4 linked regions of the Homo sapiens genome follow. The protein of the gene in region 4 interacts with the protein of the main gene of each other region in a biochemical or structural test. Each region holds a gene or a part of one and is shown on either strand. Other genes may lie near its edges.

The links.
Region 1: of the proteins of CASP3 (region 4) and ATG4D, one has a biochemical effect on the other in vitro, tested with the Homo sapiens proteins (one study listed by BioGRID).
Region 2: of the proteins of CASP3 (region 4) and DBNL, one has a biochemical effect on the other in vitro, tested with the Homo sapiens proteins (one study listed by BioGRID).
Region 3: of the proteins of CASP3 (region 4) and USO1, one has a biochemical effect on the other in vitro, tested with the Homo sapiens proteins (one study listed by BioGRID).

What each region holds. Positions count from the first base shown.
Region 1 is NC_000019.10:10,542,467-10,546,703, forward strand, and holds the start of ATG4D (cysteine protease ATG4D isoform 1 precursor), read left to right. Parts: upstream 1-1,437; 5' UTR 1,438-1,624; coding exon 1,625-1,859; intron 1,860-2,242; exon of another isoform or gene 2,243-2,270; coding exon of another isoform or gene 2,271-2,316; coding exon 2,317-2,400; intron 2,401-2,490; coding exon 2,491-2,664; intron 2,665-4,237.
Region 2 is NC_000007.14:44,058,202-44,061,701, forward strand, and holds part of DBNL (drebrin-like protein), read left to right. Parts: coding exon 1-79; intron 80-227; coding exon of another isoform or gene 228-230; coding exon 231-279; intron 280-676; coding exon of another isoform or gene 677-700; coding exon 701-782; intron 783-1,152; coding exon 1,153-1,248; intron 1,249-1,341; coding exon 1,342-1,457; intron 1,458-1,846; coding exon 1,847-1,952; intron 1,953-2,575; coding exon 2,576-2,715; 3' UTR 2,716-3,500. UniProt on the Homo sapiens protein: Adapter protein that binds F-actin and DNM1, and thereby plays a role in receptor-mediated endocytosis.
Region 3 is NC_000004.12:75,731,077-75,734,576, forward strand, and holds part of USO1 (general vesicular transport factor p115), read left to right. Parts: intron 1-3,500. UniProt on the Homo sapiens protein: General vesicular transport factor required for intercisternal transport in the Golgi stack; it is required for transcytotic fusion and/or subsequent binding of the vesicles to the target membrane.
Region 4 is NC_000004.12:184,627,196-184,629,821, reverse strand, and holds the end of CASP3 (caspase-3 isoform a preproprotein), read left to right. Parts: intron 1-320; coding exon 321-550; 3' UTR 551-2,126; downstream 2,127-2,626. UniProt on the Homo sapiens protein: Thiol protease that acts as a major effector caspase involved in the execution phase of apoptosis. Following cleavage and activation by initiator caspases (CASP8, CASP9 and/or CASP10), mediates execution of apoptosis by catalyzing cleavage of many proteins.

The sequences.
Region 1 (4,237 bases), on a different chromosome or scaffold from region 4:
AGCTTGCAGTGAGTCGAGATCGCGCCATTGCACTCCAACCTGGGCAACAGAACGAGACTCCGTCTCAAAAAAAAAAAAAAAAATTAGCCAGGGGTGGTGGCATGTGCCTATAGTCCTAGCTACTCAGGTGGCTGAGGCAGGAGACTTGCTTAAGCCTCGGCAGTTGAGACTGCAGTGAGCCATGATCAGGCCACTGCACTGTAGTCTGGATGACAGAGCAAGACCCTGTCTCAACAACAACAACCAAAATCTGTTTGGGCCTCGCAAGGTTAGAGAAAAAAAATTAAAAAATAAAATAAAATAAAATATTTTCCTGTAGTCTCAGCTACTTGGGAGGCTGAGGCAGGAGGATCACTTGAGCTAAGGAGTTTCAGGCCAGCCTGGGCAACATAGAGAGAACTTGTCTCTATAAAAAGTTAACTGATTACTTTTTAAAACAAAGAGGTTTTTTTTCAGCCTTATTGAGGTATAATAGACATATACAAAACCATGCAAATTTTAAGCGTACAATCTGATGAGTTTTCACACCTGTGAAGCCACTATTACAGTTAAGATACTGAATTTATCCACAGCTCCAAAAAATGTCTTCCTGCCTGAGGTGGTGGCTCACGCCTGTAATCCCAGCATTTGGGAGGCTGAGGCGGGAGGATCTCATGAAGCCAGGAGTTTGAGACCAGCCTAGACAACATAGCGAGACCCCTTATCTACAAATAAAATTTAAAAAATTAACCAGGCATGGTGGCTCCTGTCTGCGGTCTCAGCTACTCTGGAGGCTGAGGTTGGAGGATCAGAGTTGGAGGCTGCAGTGAGCTATGAAAGCGCCACTGCACTCCAGTCTGGACAACAGAGCCAGATGCTGTCTCGACAAAACAAACACTGAAAAAAACTTTCCTGGAGCACTTCATTCATCCCTCCCTCCCGCGCCTGCCTACCCCTGGATTTTTTTTCCCTGAGCATAATTCTCATGAAGATTCGTCTATGTTGTTGCGTGTATTCCAGCCCTATTTTGCACATGAGGAAACTGAGGCACAGAGAGGCGTGGCTTGCCCCGGAGGTCACACTAGTCGATTTGGTCCCAGGCCAGGGCGGGTTCTGGGTCGGCAGCCCGCGCAGGTGCACTCGGGAGGCGGGGCGGGCGCTGCAGGTGCGCAGTCAGTCTCACCTGGGCGCCTGCCAGGAGGTCAGTCCTGGGCCCTGGGGGGCAGGACTAGGGGCGGGGCCAGGGGCAGGGGTTCCCCAGCTCTGCTGCCTCCGATAAGGGCCTGAAGGGGCTGTCGCGCTCCTGGCGGTGTGATAAGGAGGGCGGGGGGAGGCCGCGGGAAGGCGTCGGGGTTTGAGGTCCCCGCCTGGCGACCCGGGATCGGGGCAGGAAAGGCGGCTGGGCGGGGAGAGGGCGGGGCGGGGCGTCTGGCTTGGCCACGCCCACCGTCATCCGGGGTCCTGGCCCGCTAAGATGGCGATGGCTGCGGTAGCAGCGGCGGCGGCTGTTGCCTGGCCCGGTACCCTGGGGACGGGGGCCGAGTAGCGCCTTCCCCGGGCCCCGTGAACCGGCTGCGGGTCGCCCTTGGGGGGCAGCGGCCGCAGCCCCCCACCTGGGCCCTCGGTCCGCCCTCCCGGCGCGTCCATGAACTCAGTGTCGCCGGCCGCCGCGCAGTACCGGAGCAGCAGCCCGGAGGACGCGCGCCGCCGGCCCGAGGCCCGCAGGCCGCGGGGTCCCAGAGGCCCAGACCCCAACGGCCTGGGGCCTTCCGGAGCCAGCGGCCCCGCTCTTGGCTCTCCCGGGGCTGGCCCGAGTGAGCCGGACGAAGTGGACAAGTTCAAGGCCAAGTTCCTGACAGCCTGGAACAACGTCAAGTACGGTGAGGAGGGGGCCCGGAGATCGTGGGGGTGTCGGGGGCCGTTGAGGAAAACCAGACCCCGGTCCTGCCAGTTATCCCACCCTTGTTCCCGTCCTGAGTCACCTGTGGGTCCCCTCCCTGCCCGGCCCAGGGTGGACCTGTGGCAGGTCCAATAGTGTTTTCAAGCCCCGCCCATTCCCCTGTGTGACCTTGGGCAAGATCCTTTGCTTCCTGGCGCCTCCGTTTTTGCCCCTCTCTGTAAAATGGGTACAATAATCAGAACTACCTTCCTTCATCCTGAATTGATGGTGGACACTCCTGTAGCTGTCACTGGGGGCCCCACCTCCGACGGAATCCCCGGAGCCACCCCGGAGATAGGAACTAGGATCGTGCCCATTTCACAGATGGGGGAATGGAAGCGCTGTTGCTGTCATGCAAGTGCTTCATCTCGCTGGGCGCTGCCCCTACGTCTCCCCAGGTTGGGTGGTTAAAAGCCGGACCAGCTTTAGCAAGATCTCCAGCATCCACCTCTGTGGCCGCCGCTACCGTTTCGAGGGCGAGGGTGAGCTGGTGGTTGGGACCAGGGCTGGGGGAGGCCTCTCCACGCCCGCCGGAGTGTCCCTGGTGGCAGCTGACAGACCCGCTCTTGTAGGTGACATACAGCGTTTCCAGCGGGACTTTGTGTCCCGCCTGTGGCTCACATACCGCCGGGACTTCCCGCCCCTTCCTGGGGGCTGCCTGACCTCGGACTGTGGCTGGGGGTGCATGTTACGCAGCGGCCAGATGATGCTGGCACAGGGCCTTCTGCTGCATTTCCTGCCCAGAGGTGAGCCATAGGGGGGAAGGGGTGCACTAGGAGTACAGGGTCAACTGCCATATCAGCAGTATTAGAATTACTTACCAACTAAGAGTTCAAAGTCACGTTAGAATTGTGTGTCAAGTAAGTTTTGGAGAGATGAGAGTTGTTTATAAGAGTTTCAGCCGGGGTTGGAAACGGTGGCTCATGCCTGTAATCCTAGCACTTTGGGAGGCTGAGGCGGATGGATCCCTTGCGGTCAGGAGTTCAAGACCAGCCTGGCCAATATGATGAAACCCCATCTCTACTAAAAATACAAAAATTAGCCGGTTGTGGTGGCACACGCCTGTAATCCCAGCTACTCCCGAGGCTGAGGTGGGAGAATCTCTTGAACCCAGGAGGCGGAGGTTACAGCAAGCCAAGATCGCACCACTGCACTCCAGCCTGGGCAACAGAGGGAGACTCTGTGTCAAAAATAAAAATAAAAAAAAGTTTCACCAGGCACGGTGGCTCATGCCTGTAATCCCAGCACTTTGGGAGGCTGAGGCTGGTGGATCATGAGGTCAGGAGTTCAAGACCAGCCTGGCCAAGATGGTGAAACCCCATCTCTACTAAAAATACAAAAATTAGCTGGGTGTGGTGGCAGGCACCTGTAATTTGGCAAGGTAAAGCAGAGAATTGCTTGAACCGGGGAGGCGGAGGTTGCAGTGAGCCGAGATCCGTGCCACTGCACTCCAGCCTGGGTGGCAGAGCGAGACTCAGTCTCAAAAAAAAAAAAAGAGTTTTGGCTGGGCACTGTGCTGCATGCTTGTAATCCCAGCTACCTGGGAGGCTGAGGTGGGAAGATTGCTCGTGCCCAGGTGTTCAAGTCTGCAGTGAACTATGATCCTGCCACTGCACTCCAACCCGAGTGACAGAATGAGACTCCAACAATAACAGGTCGAGTGTGGTGGCTCATGCCTGTAATCCCAGCACATTAGGAGGCTGAGGCAGGAGGATCGCTTGAGCATAGGCATTCGACACCAGCCTAGGCCACATGACAAGGCTCCTGTCTCTACAAAAAAATTTTAAAAATTAGCTGAGTGTGGTGGCATGTGCCTGTGATCCCAACTACTCAGGAGGCTGAGGCGGGAGAATCTGTTGAGCTCAGGATTTAGAGGCTGTAGTGAGACGTGATTGTGCCACTGCACTCCAGTCTGGATGACAGTGAGATCCTGTCTTTATTTATTTATTTTATTTATTATTATTATTATTTTTTTTTTTGAGACTGAGTCTTCCTCTATCATCCTGGCTGAAGTGCAGTGGAGAGATCTTGGCTCACTGCAACCTCTGCCTCCCAGGTTCAAGCGATTCTCCTGCCTCAGCCTCCTGAGTAGCTGGGATTACAGGTGCCCGCCACCACGCTTGTCTACTTTTTGTATATTTTTTTTTTTATCAGAGAAGGGGTTTCACCATGTTGGCCAGGCTGGTCTCGAACTCCAGGCCTCAAGTGATCCACCTGCCTTGGTCTCCCAAAGTGCTGAGATTACAGGCATGAGCCACCGCGTCTGGCTGAGATCCTGTCTTTAAGTAACAAAAAATAAATAAATAAATAAGGATAAGT
Region 2 (3,500 bases), on a different chromosome or scaffold from region 4:
GCCGGGAGCGTGAGCTGCGTGAGGCTGCACGCCGGGAGCAGCGCTATCAGGAGCAGGGTGGCGAGGCCAGCCCCCAGAGGTGAGCCAGAGGTGGAGGCTGGCCTGGGGGACCCACCCTGAGGCATTGCTGGGCACCTGCTCCATCCCATGGAGGCGAGGAGGACTAAGGGGTGTGGCATGAGAAGCTGTGACTGTGCCTCAGCTGTGCCCCACCCGGCCCTTCCCAGCAGGACGTGGGAGCAGCAGCAAGAAGTGGTTTCAAGGAACCGAAATGAGCAGGTAAGATGGGGGTGCTCTACTTGTTTGGACCTGTCCTGGCCACACGCAGAAGTCCCTGATCTCGGATTGAGGGCCCAGCCCAGACCTGGGCAGAGGCTGCCCTGCAGTCAGCTGGGGCAGGTTGGAATCTGGGCACCTCAAGAGGTGGCAGTAGAGAGGAAAGCCAAAGGCGGAAGCGTCGGGCTTGGACCACACCTGGTCCTGGGGGAGGCCCTGGGAGCCCCTTGGCTTCTGTGTTTTACTTCCTTTTTTAACGTTACTTTTTATTTTTAAATGACTTCTCTCCTGAGAACATGTTTTGCCTCCTGGCCCCACACTCACCTTTGAGGGGCTACTGGGCCGACAGCTGGAGGGGCTGTGATCTGGGGAGAGGTGGTGAAGGTTTTGCCCACTGCAGGGGTCAACATGTGCTTCCCTCCAGGAGTCTGCCGTGCACCCGAGGGAGATTTTCAAGCAGAAGGAGAGGGCCATGTCCACCACCTCCATCTCCAGTCCTCAGCCTGGTGAGCTCTCCCTTTGGGCCTGGCCATGAGGCAGCAGCAGGCTGAGGGGGAGCCTGGGGTCCTATGTGGGCTCCCCCAAGGCTAGTGACAGATATATCGGTGACGGGTGAGTGAGTGAGGAGAAGGGACACCTGGGGCCATTGACCTCATCAGTGACCACACTGGTCACCAGTTTGGCCTCCAAAAGATATTGGGCTGCGCTGTCTACCACGTCACCACATAGCACATGGCCCTGGGGCCTCTGTTCCTGCACTAGCAAGAGCAAGCCCCATGAGACTGCCTCGAGCACACCAGGGTGGAGGGTGCTGTGGGGTGCGTGGGTGTGTGGTGGTGTTTCTGAAGTGATGTATATATTTACCCGGGTTTGCAGGCAAGCTGAGGAGCCCCTTCCTGCAGAAGCAGCTCACCCAACCAGAGACCCACTTTGGCAGAGAGCCAGCTGCTGCCATCTCAAGGCCCAGGGCAGGCAAGGCGCTTGTCACCCCATGGGGACCCTGGGGGACAGCAGTGGAGAAGGGGGATGTGTGGGAGTGAGAACCTGCTGTGTTCCCTGGTGCAGATCTCCCTGCTGAGGAGCCGGCGCCCAGCACTCCTCCATGTCTGGTGCAGGCAGAAGAGGAGGCTGTGTATGAGGAACCTCCAGAGCAGGAGACCTTCTACGAGCAGCCCCCACTGGTGGGTTCCTACACTGGGGCTGGGGCCAGGAAGGGGCTGCATACTCAGGAACACTTATCACGGGCCGCCTGAGTTTTCTGGGGGCATGCAACAGGTTTTAAAGCACATGCATTTTTGGAGCAGCCCTGTGTTATAAATTGTCAGGGCACGCCCCACTCTATAGGAGGTGCTGGGTGGGAAGAGGACCTTGCAGCCTATGGCTGAGGGATTTATGCACTGTCCTGTGGCTTCTGTACTCTGGTAGGGCGGGGACAGCAGCAGCCCAGCCCCCGAGCCTGTAGACTGCTTGCCCTCTGCGTACTCCCAGCTTGACCTGAGCCATGTGGGGCAGAGCAGCGATTGTGTGTAAGGGCTGAGTCTGGGGTAACACCTTTGTCATCCCTGGGCAGGTGCAGCAGCAAGGTGCTGGCTCTGAGCACATTGACCACCACATTCAGGGCCAGGGGCTCAGTGGGCAAGGGCTCTGTGCCCGTGCCCTGTACGACTACCAGGCAGGTAAGGTGCCCTGGCCTGGCTGGCACAGACCACAGGGTCCTGAGGTTAGGAGACAAGAGGGTCTGGGGTTTTATGGGAAGATGGCACCAGGGGGTATCAGGAAGAGAAGACAGGAGGGTGGGCGGTGCGTTTAGGGGTAGAAGCACCTCTGGAGTGGGGGTGACTGTGGCACTAGAGTGTTCTGCACAGCCCAGGCCTCCCTACATGTTCCTCATTAGCTATTTGCTGGCCGCTGATGTGAATCCCAGTTGCCACCCTTGTCACAGAACATGGACTCTGAGCAGGGAGGTGGGCCAGGCCTGGATGCTGGTTCACCAGGCGTCCCTGGGTGGAGGCCTTGGAGAATGGGGTGGAGGCCCCCTACGGAGCAGGCTGGTGTCTACTCTAGCCTTTTTTGGGAATGCTCTGTAGGAGGGTATGCCCTGGGGGTGTGGTCACTGGAGCCGCATTGGGACAGGGTGCAGTGTTGGCCAAGGCTTAGCAGGGTGGCAGGGATATTTCTGAGGAGGAACCAGAGCTGCAGCGAGGTGTGCTGCAGCAGTGTGGGGCTGCCGTGGGCTGCCCGAGCAGGTGGGATGTGGGAGGGAGCCCCTGATATGCATCTGGGCTCATCCTCTTTGCAGCCGACGACACAGAGATCTCCTTTGACCCCGAGAACCTCATCACGGGCATCGAGGTGATCGACGAAGGCTGGTGGCGTGGCTATGGGCCGGATGGCCATTTTGGCATGTTCCCTGCCAACTACGTGGAGCTCATTGAGTGAGGCTGAGGGCACATCTTGCCCTTCCCCTCTCAGACATGGCTTCCTTATTGCTGGAAGAGGAGGCCTGGGAGTTGACATTCAGCACTCTTCCAGGAATAGGACCCCCAGTGAGGATGAGGCCTCAGGGCTCCCTCCGGCTTGGCAGACTCAGCCTGTCACCCCAAATGCAGCAATGGCCTGGTGATTCCCACACATCCTTCCTGCATCCCCCGACCCTCCCAGACAGCTTGGCTCTTGCCCCTGACAGGATACTGAGCCAAGCCCTGCCTGTGGCCAAGCCCTGAGTGGCCACTGCCAAGCTGCGGGGAAGGGTCCTGAGCAGGGGCATCTGGGAGGCTCTGGCTGCCTTCTGCATTTATTTGCCTTTTTTCTTTTTCTCTTGCTTCTAAGGGGTGGTGGCCACCACTGTTTAGAATGACCCTTGGGAACAGTGAACGTAGAGAATTGTTTTTAGCAGAGTTTGTGACCAAAGTCAGAGTGGATCATGGTGGTTTGGCAGCAGGGAATTTGTCTTGTTGGAGCCTGCTCTGTGCTCCCCACTCCATTTCTCTGTCCCTCTGCCTGGGCTATGGGAAGTGGGGATGCAGATGGCCAAGCTCCCACCCTGGGTATTCAAAAACGGCAGACACAACATGTTCCTCCACGCGGCTCACTCGATGCCTGCAGGCCCCAGTGTGTGCCTCAACTGATTCTGACTTCAGGAAAAGTAACACAGAGTGGCCTTGGCCTGTTGTCTTCCCCTATTTTCTGTCCCAGCTCATCCGTGTCTCTGAAGAACAAATATG
Region 3 (3,500 bases), about 110 Mb from region 4:
ATATTACTTGGCTGACTTAAGGTAACTATAATGGAAATGGATTCATTGGATTTGTCTACAAAGAGACTTGTGTTTGATTTTTTAATGTTCCCACATCTCTTTTTATAGATTATAATAATTTAGGTCATATGAAGATAAGATTTGCTTTTGCTGTTTTAATAAAGTCTTCTCAGTAACAGAGTTAAATTTAAAACAAATTTCTGGGCCAGGCCTGGTGGCTCACGCCTGTAATCCCAGCACTTTGGTAGGCTGAGGCGGGTGGATCACCTGAGGTCAGGAGTTTGAGACCAGCCTGGCCAACATGACGAAACCCTGTCTCTGCTAAAAATACAAAAATTAGCTGGACATGGTGGCAGGTGCCTGTAATCCCAGCTACTAGGGAGGCTGAGGCAGGAGAATCACTTGAACCCACGAGGTGGAGGTTACAATGAGCCAAGATCGCACCACTGCACTCTAGCCTGGGCAATGGAGTGAGACTCCGTCTCAAAAAAAAAAAAAAATGACTTTTGTAATCTAAAACAATAATATTTTTATTTCATCTAAAACATAAGTGAATTGACTATTAGCATGAATTATTTGTCTTACAGTTAGGGAAATTCTGTTTTAGGAAGGTACAACTATGTTTTAAATTTCAAGGTAAGATTATATCATAAAATTAAATCAATATTAGGTGCTTGACAAATATTTGTTGGATAAATGATTGATTGATTAGAGTTAGCATTTTAATTGCCATTCCTGTTCTTTATTTTTTCCTGTCAGTTAAGTAGTTACTGAATACTTAAAAAAAAGAATTGTGAAAAAATACTGCAAGCTGTATTACACTAGTGTCCTTTAATTTTTTTGCTTTTATATTTTTATAAACGATTAAACGTAAATTAGTATTGTTTCATAAGCAAATGTGTTTATGAAAATAAACATTTCTCTAAACAATATTTTTTCCCCATAACTTTAAAGTTTTAGAAGGTTACATGTGCAAGTTGTTACATGGGTAAATTGCCTGTTGCTAAGGTTTGATGTATAACCATCACCCAGGTAGTGAGGATGGTACCTGATGGGTAGTTTCTTAACTCTCGCCCCCTCTCCCACCTTCCCCCCGTTGTTGTCCCCAGTGTTGACTGCTCCCATCTTTAGGTCCGTGCTTACTCATTGTTTAGCTCCCACTTGTAAGTGAGGAAATGCAGTATTTGGTTTTCTGTTCCTATATTAATTCGCTTAGGATAATGGCTACCAGCTGCATCTATGTTGCTGCAAAGGGCATGATTTTATTCTTTTTCATGTCGACATAGTATTCCATGGCATATATGTACTGCATTTTCTTTATCCAGTCCACTATTGATGGACACCTAGGTTGACTCCACATCTTTGCAGTTGTGAATAGTGCTCCAGTGAATATGCAAGTGCATATGGCTTTTTGATAGAATGATTTATTTTTCTTTATTTTCCCTTATTTCATTAAAAACATTATAATTGAAATGACTATTAGCATGGATTATTTTAGTCTTACAATAAATAGTCATAGTTACTGGACGCAGTGGCTCAAGCCTGTAATCCCAGCACTTTGGGAGGCTGAGGCGGGCAGATCACGAGGTGAGGAGATCAAGACCATCCTGGCCAACATGGTGAAACCCCGTCTCTACTAAAAATACAAAAATTAGCTGGGCATGGTGGCACCTGTGCCTGTAATCCCAGCTACTTGGGAAGCTGAGGCAGGAGAATCACTTGAACCAGGGAGTTGGAGGTTGCAGTGAGCCAAGATCGCGCCACTGCACTCCAGCCTGGCGACAGAGCGAGATTCCATCTAAAAAAAAAAAAAAAAAAAAAAGTCATAGTTGGGGGAGTTCTGTTTTAGGAATGTTTTAAGCTTCATGAAGGTAAGGTTATATCATAAAATCACGTCTGTAGGGCCGGGTGCGGTGGCTCATGCCTATAATCTTAGCACTTTGGGAGGCCGAGGCGGGCAGATTACAAGGTCAGGAGTTCGAGACCAGCCTGGCCAATATGGTGAAACCCCGTCTCTACTACAAATACAAAAATTAGCCGGGCGTGGTGGCGGGCACCTGTAGTCCCAGCTACTTGGGAGGCTGAGGCAGGAGAATAGCTTGAACCCAGGAGGCAGAGGTTGCAGTGAGCCGAGATCACGCCACTGCAGTCCAGCCTGGGCAACACAGTGAGACTCTGTCTCAAAAAAAAAATTAAAAAAAATAAATTAAGTCTGTATTAGCTGCATGACAAATATTTGTTGAAAAAATACAGTAGTGAGACTGCTGGGTCGAATGGTAGTTCTGTTTTAAGTTCTTTGAGAGATATCCCAACTGCTCTCTACAGTGACTGAACTAAAATTACATTCCCACCAACAGTATATAGCATTCCCTTTTCTCTATAACCTCTCTAACATCTGTTTTTTGTTTGTTTGTTTTGTCTTTTTAATAATAGTCATTCTGACTGGTGGGAGATGGTATTTCACTGTGGTTTTGACTTGCATTTGTCAGATGATTTAGTGGTGTGGAACATTTTTCCATATATTTCTTGCCTATGTATATGTATTGTTTGGAGAAGTGTCTGTTCATGTCCTTTGCCCATTTTTTAAGAGTTTTTGGTTTTTGCCTGTTGAATTAAGTTCCTTACAGATTCTGAATATTAGACCTTTGTCAGATGCATGGTTTGCAGATGTTTTCTCCCAGGTTATAAGTTGTTTGTTTACTCTGTTGATAGTTTCTTTTGCTGTGCAGAAGCTCTTTAGTATAATTAGGTCCCACTTGTCAATTTTTGTTTTTGTCACAATTGCTTTTGGGCACTTAGTCATAAATTCTTTGCCAAGGCCAATGTCCAGGATGATATCTCCTAGATTTTCTTCGAGGATTTTTTTTTTTTTTTTTTTTTTTTTTGAGTAGGAGTCTGGCCCTGTCACCCAGGCTGGAGTGAGTGCAATGGTGCGATTGGCTCACTGCAACCTCTGCCTCCCGGATTCAAGCGATTCTCCTGCTTCAGCCTCCCAAGTAGCTGGGACTACAGATGCACACCACCACACCCAGATAATTTTTGTATTTTTAGTAGAGACAGGGTTTCACCATGTTGGCCAGGATGGTCTCGATCTCCTGACCTCGTGATCCTCCCACCTTGACCTCCCAAAGTGCTGGGATTACAGGCGTAAGCCACCATGCCCAGCCTCTTCTCGGCTTTTTATAGTTTTAGGTCTTATATTTATGTCTTTAATCCATCTTGAGTTAATTTTTGTATATGGTAAAAGGTAAGGGCCCAGTTTCATTCTTCTGCATAAGGCTATCCAGTTATCCCAGCACCATTTATTGGATAGGTAGTCCTTTCTCCATTGCTTGTTACTGTCAATTTTGTCAAAGATCAGATGGTTGTAGGTGTGTGGCTTTAGTTTTGGGTTCTCTATCCTGTTCCATTGCTCCATGTCTGTAATAGGCTGTTTTGGTTAGTGTAGCTTTGTAGTATAGTTTGAAGTGGGGTAGTGTGATTTTTCCAGCTTTGTTCTT
Region 4 (2,626 bases):
ACTTTTGCATCTTACCTTCTGCGTGTTTGCTCTTCTTGCCTATTGAAAGGGGAGTCCAGAAAGTAAAACTTTCAATAATTCAGTGTTCGTGAAGCTGGTCCCCGGCCAGCTTTGCTGAAAGCAGGGGGTGTACGCATAGCACACATTCGTCCTTCAGCATCATTTCTTCTGAAACCAAAGGTGTCTTTTTTTTTTTATTTGTATGACTAATAAGACTTATGTAAGTTTATGCTTATTTTTGCCTTTATGACTACATAATAATTTATAGAATCAACTAAAATCAGCTATCCATGGTATTTTGCTTGTATTTTGCCTTTTAGGTTATTATTCTTGGCGAAATTCAAAGGATGGCTCCTGGTTCATCCAGTCGCTTTGTGCCATGCTGAAACAGTATGCCGACAAGCTTGAATTTATGCACATTCTTACCCGGGTTAACCGAAAGGTGGCAACAGAATTTGAGTCCTTTTCCTTTGACGCTACTTTTCATGCAAAGAAACAGATTCCATGTATTGTTTCCATGCTCACAAAAGAACTCTATTTTTATCACTAAAGAAATGGTTGGTTGGTGGTTTTTTTTAGTTTGTATGCCAAGTGAGAAGATGGTATATTTGGTACTGTATTTCCCTCTCATTTTGACCTACTCTCATGCTGCAGAGGGTACTTTAAGACATACTCCTTCCATCAAATAGAACCACTATGAAGCTACCTCAAACTTCCAGTCAGGTAGTTGCAATTGAATTAAATTAGGAATAAATAAAAATGGATACTGGTGCAGTCATTATGAGAGGCAATGATTGTTAATTTACAGCTTTCATGATTAGCAAGTTACAGTGATGCTGTGCTATGAATTTTCAAGTAATTGTGAAAAAGTTAAACATTGAAGTAATGAATTTTTATGATATTCCCCCCACTTAAGACTGTGTATTCTAGTTTTGTCAAACTGTAGAAATGATGATGTGGAAGAACTTAGGCATCTGTGGGCATGGTCAAAGGCTCAAACCTTTATTTTAGAATTGATATACACGGATGACTTAACTGCATTTTTAGACCATTTATCTGGGATTATGGTTTTGTGATGTTTGTCCTGAACACTTTTGTTGTAAAAAAATAATAATAATGTTTAATATTGAGAAAGAAACTAATATTTTATGTGAGAGAAAGTGTGAGCAAACTAACTTGACTTTTAAGGCTAAAACTTAACATTCATAGAGGGGTGGAGTTTTAACTGTAAGGTGCTACAATGCCCCTGGATCTACCAGCATAAATATCTTCTGATTTGTCCCTATGCATATCAGTTGAGCTTCATATACCAGCAATATATCTGAAGAGCTATTATATAAAAACCCCAAACTGTTGATTATTAGCCAGGTAATGTGAATAAATTCTATAGGAACATATGAAAATACAACTTAAATAATAAACAGTGGAATATAAGGAAAGCAATAAATGAATGGGCTGAGCTGCCTGTAACTTGAGAGTAGATGGTTTGAGCCTGAGCAGAGACATGACTCAGCCTGTTCCATGAAGGCAGAGCCATGGACCACGCAGGAAGGGCCTACAGCCCATTTCTCCATACGCACTGGTATGTGTGGATGATGCTGCCAGGGCGCCATCGCCAAGTAAGAAAGTGAAGCAAATCAGAAACTTGTGAAGTGGAAATGTTCTAAAGGTGGTGAGGCAATAAAAATCATAGTACTCTTTGTAGCAAAATTCTTAAGTATGTTATTTTCTGTTGAAGTTTACAATCAAAGGAAAATAGTAATGTTTTATACTGTTTACTGAAAGAAAAAGACCTATGAGCACATAGGACTCTAGACGGCATCCAGCCGGAGGCCAGAGCTGAGCCCTCAGCCCGGGAGGCAGGCTCCAGGCCTCAGCAGGTGCGGAGCCGTCACTGCACCAAGTCTCACTGGCTGTCAGTATGACATTTCACGGGAGATTTCTTGTTGCTCAAAAAATGAGCTCGCATTTGTCAATGACAGTTTCTTTTTTCTTACTAGACCTGTAACTTTTGTAAATACACATAGCATGTAATGGTATCTTAAAGTGTGTTTCTATGTGACAATTTTGTACAAATTTGTTATTTTCCATTTTTATTTCAAAATATACATTCAAACTTAAAATTACCAATGTCTTTGAGTTTTTTGTTGCTGTTGTTTTTGATGTTGTGCCACTAATTGGAAGTTAAAATGTTTTTAATCAGAAGCTTGATTTGGAAGAGTCAAAGAGGAAGCACCAGAACCCTAGCCTAGTTTTTTGAGGTGGTGGCAGTTAGATCAGGGCAGACAGATCGCTTATGCTTCCCAAGTCCTCGCAGAAGTTCCTGACCCTGAAATGACCACAATGCCAGGAAGATACTTTGTTTGCATAGATCTCAGGCCTTAAATATGACCATATGTGTGAATTTGAAACTTTTTCCACAAGATAAGTGTCTAATGGGAAGAACAACCTAAGAGGATATACAACAAGCCGTTGATGTTTACTGATGGCCTCCTCTGGGCGCTGGGATTTTGACAGAGGAATTTGCTGTCTTTTTACTTCATATGCTTAGAAAAGGAATATAGGAAAGTGGGGTTGTGGGTGGTTTTAAATTTCTTCCAATATTTCTGTAATGAAAATATATTAC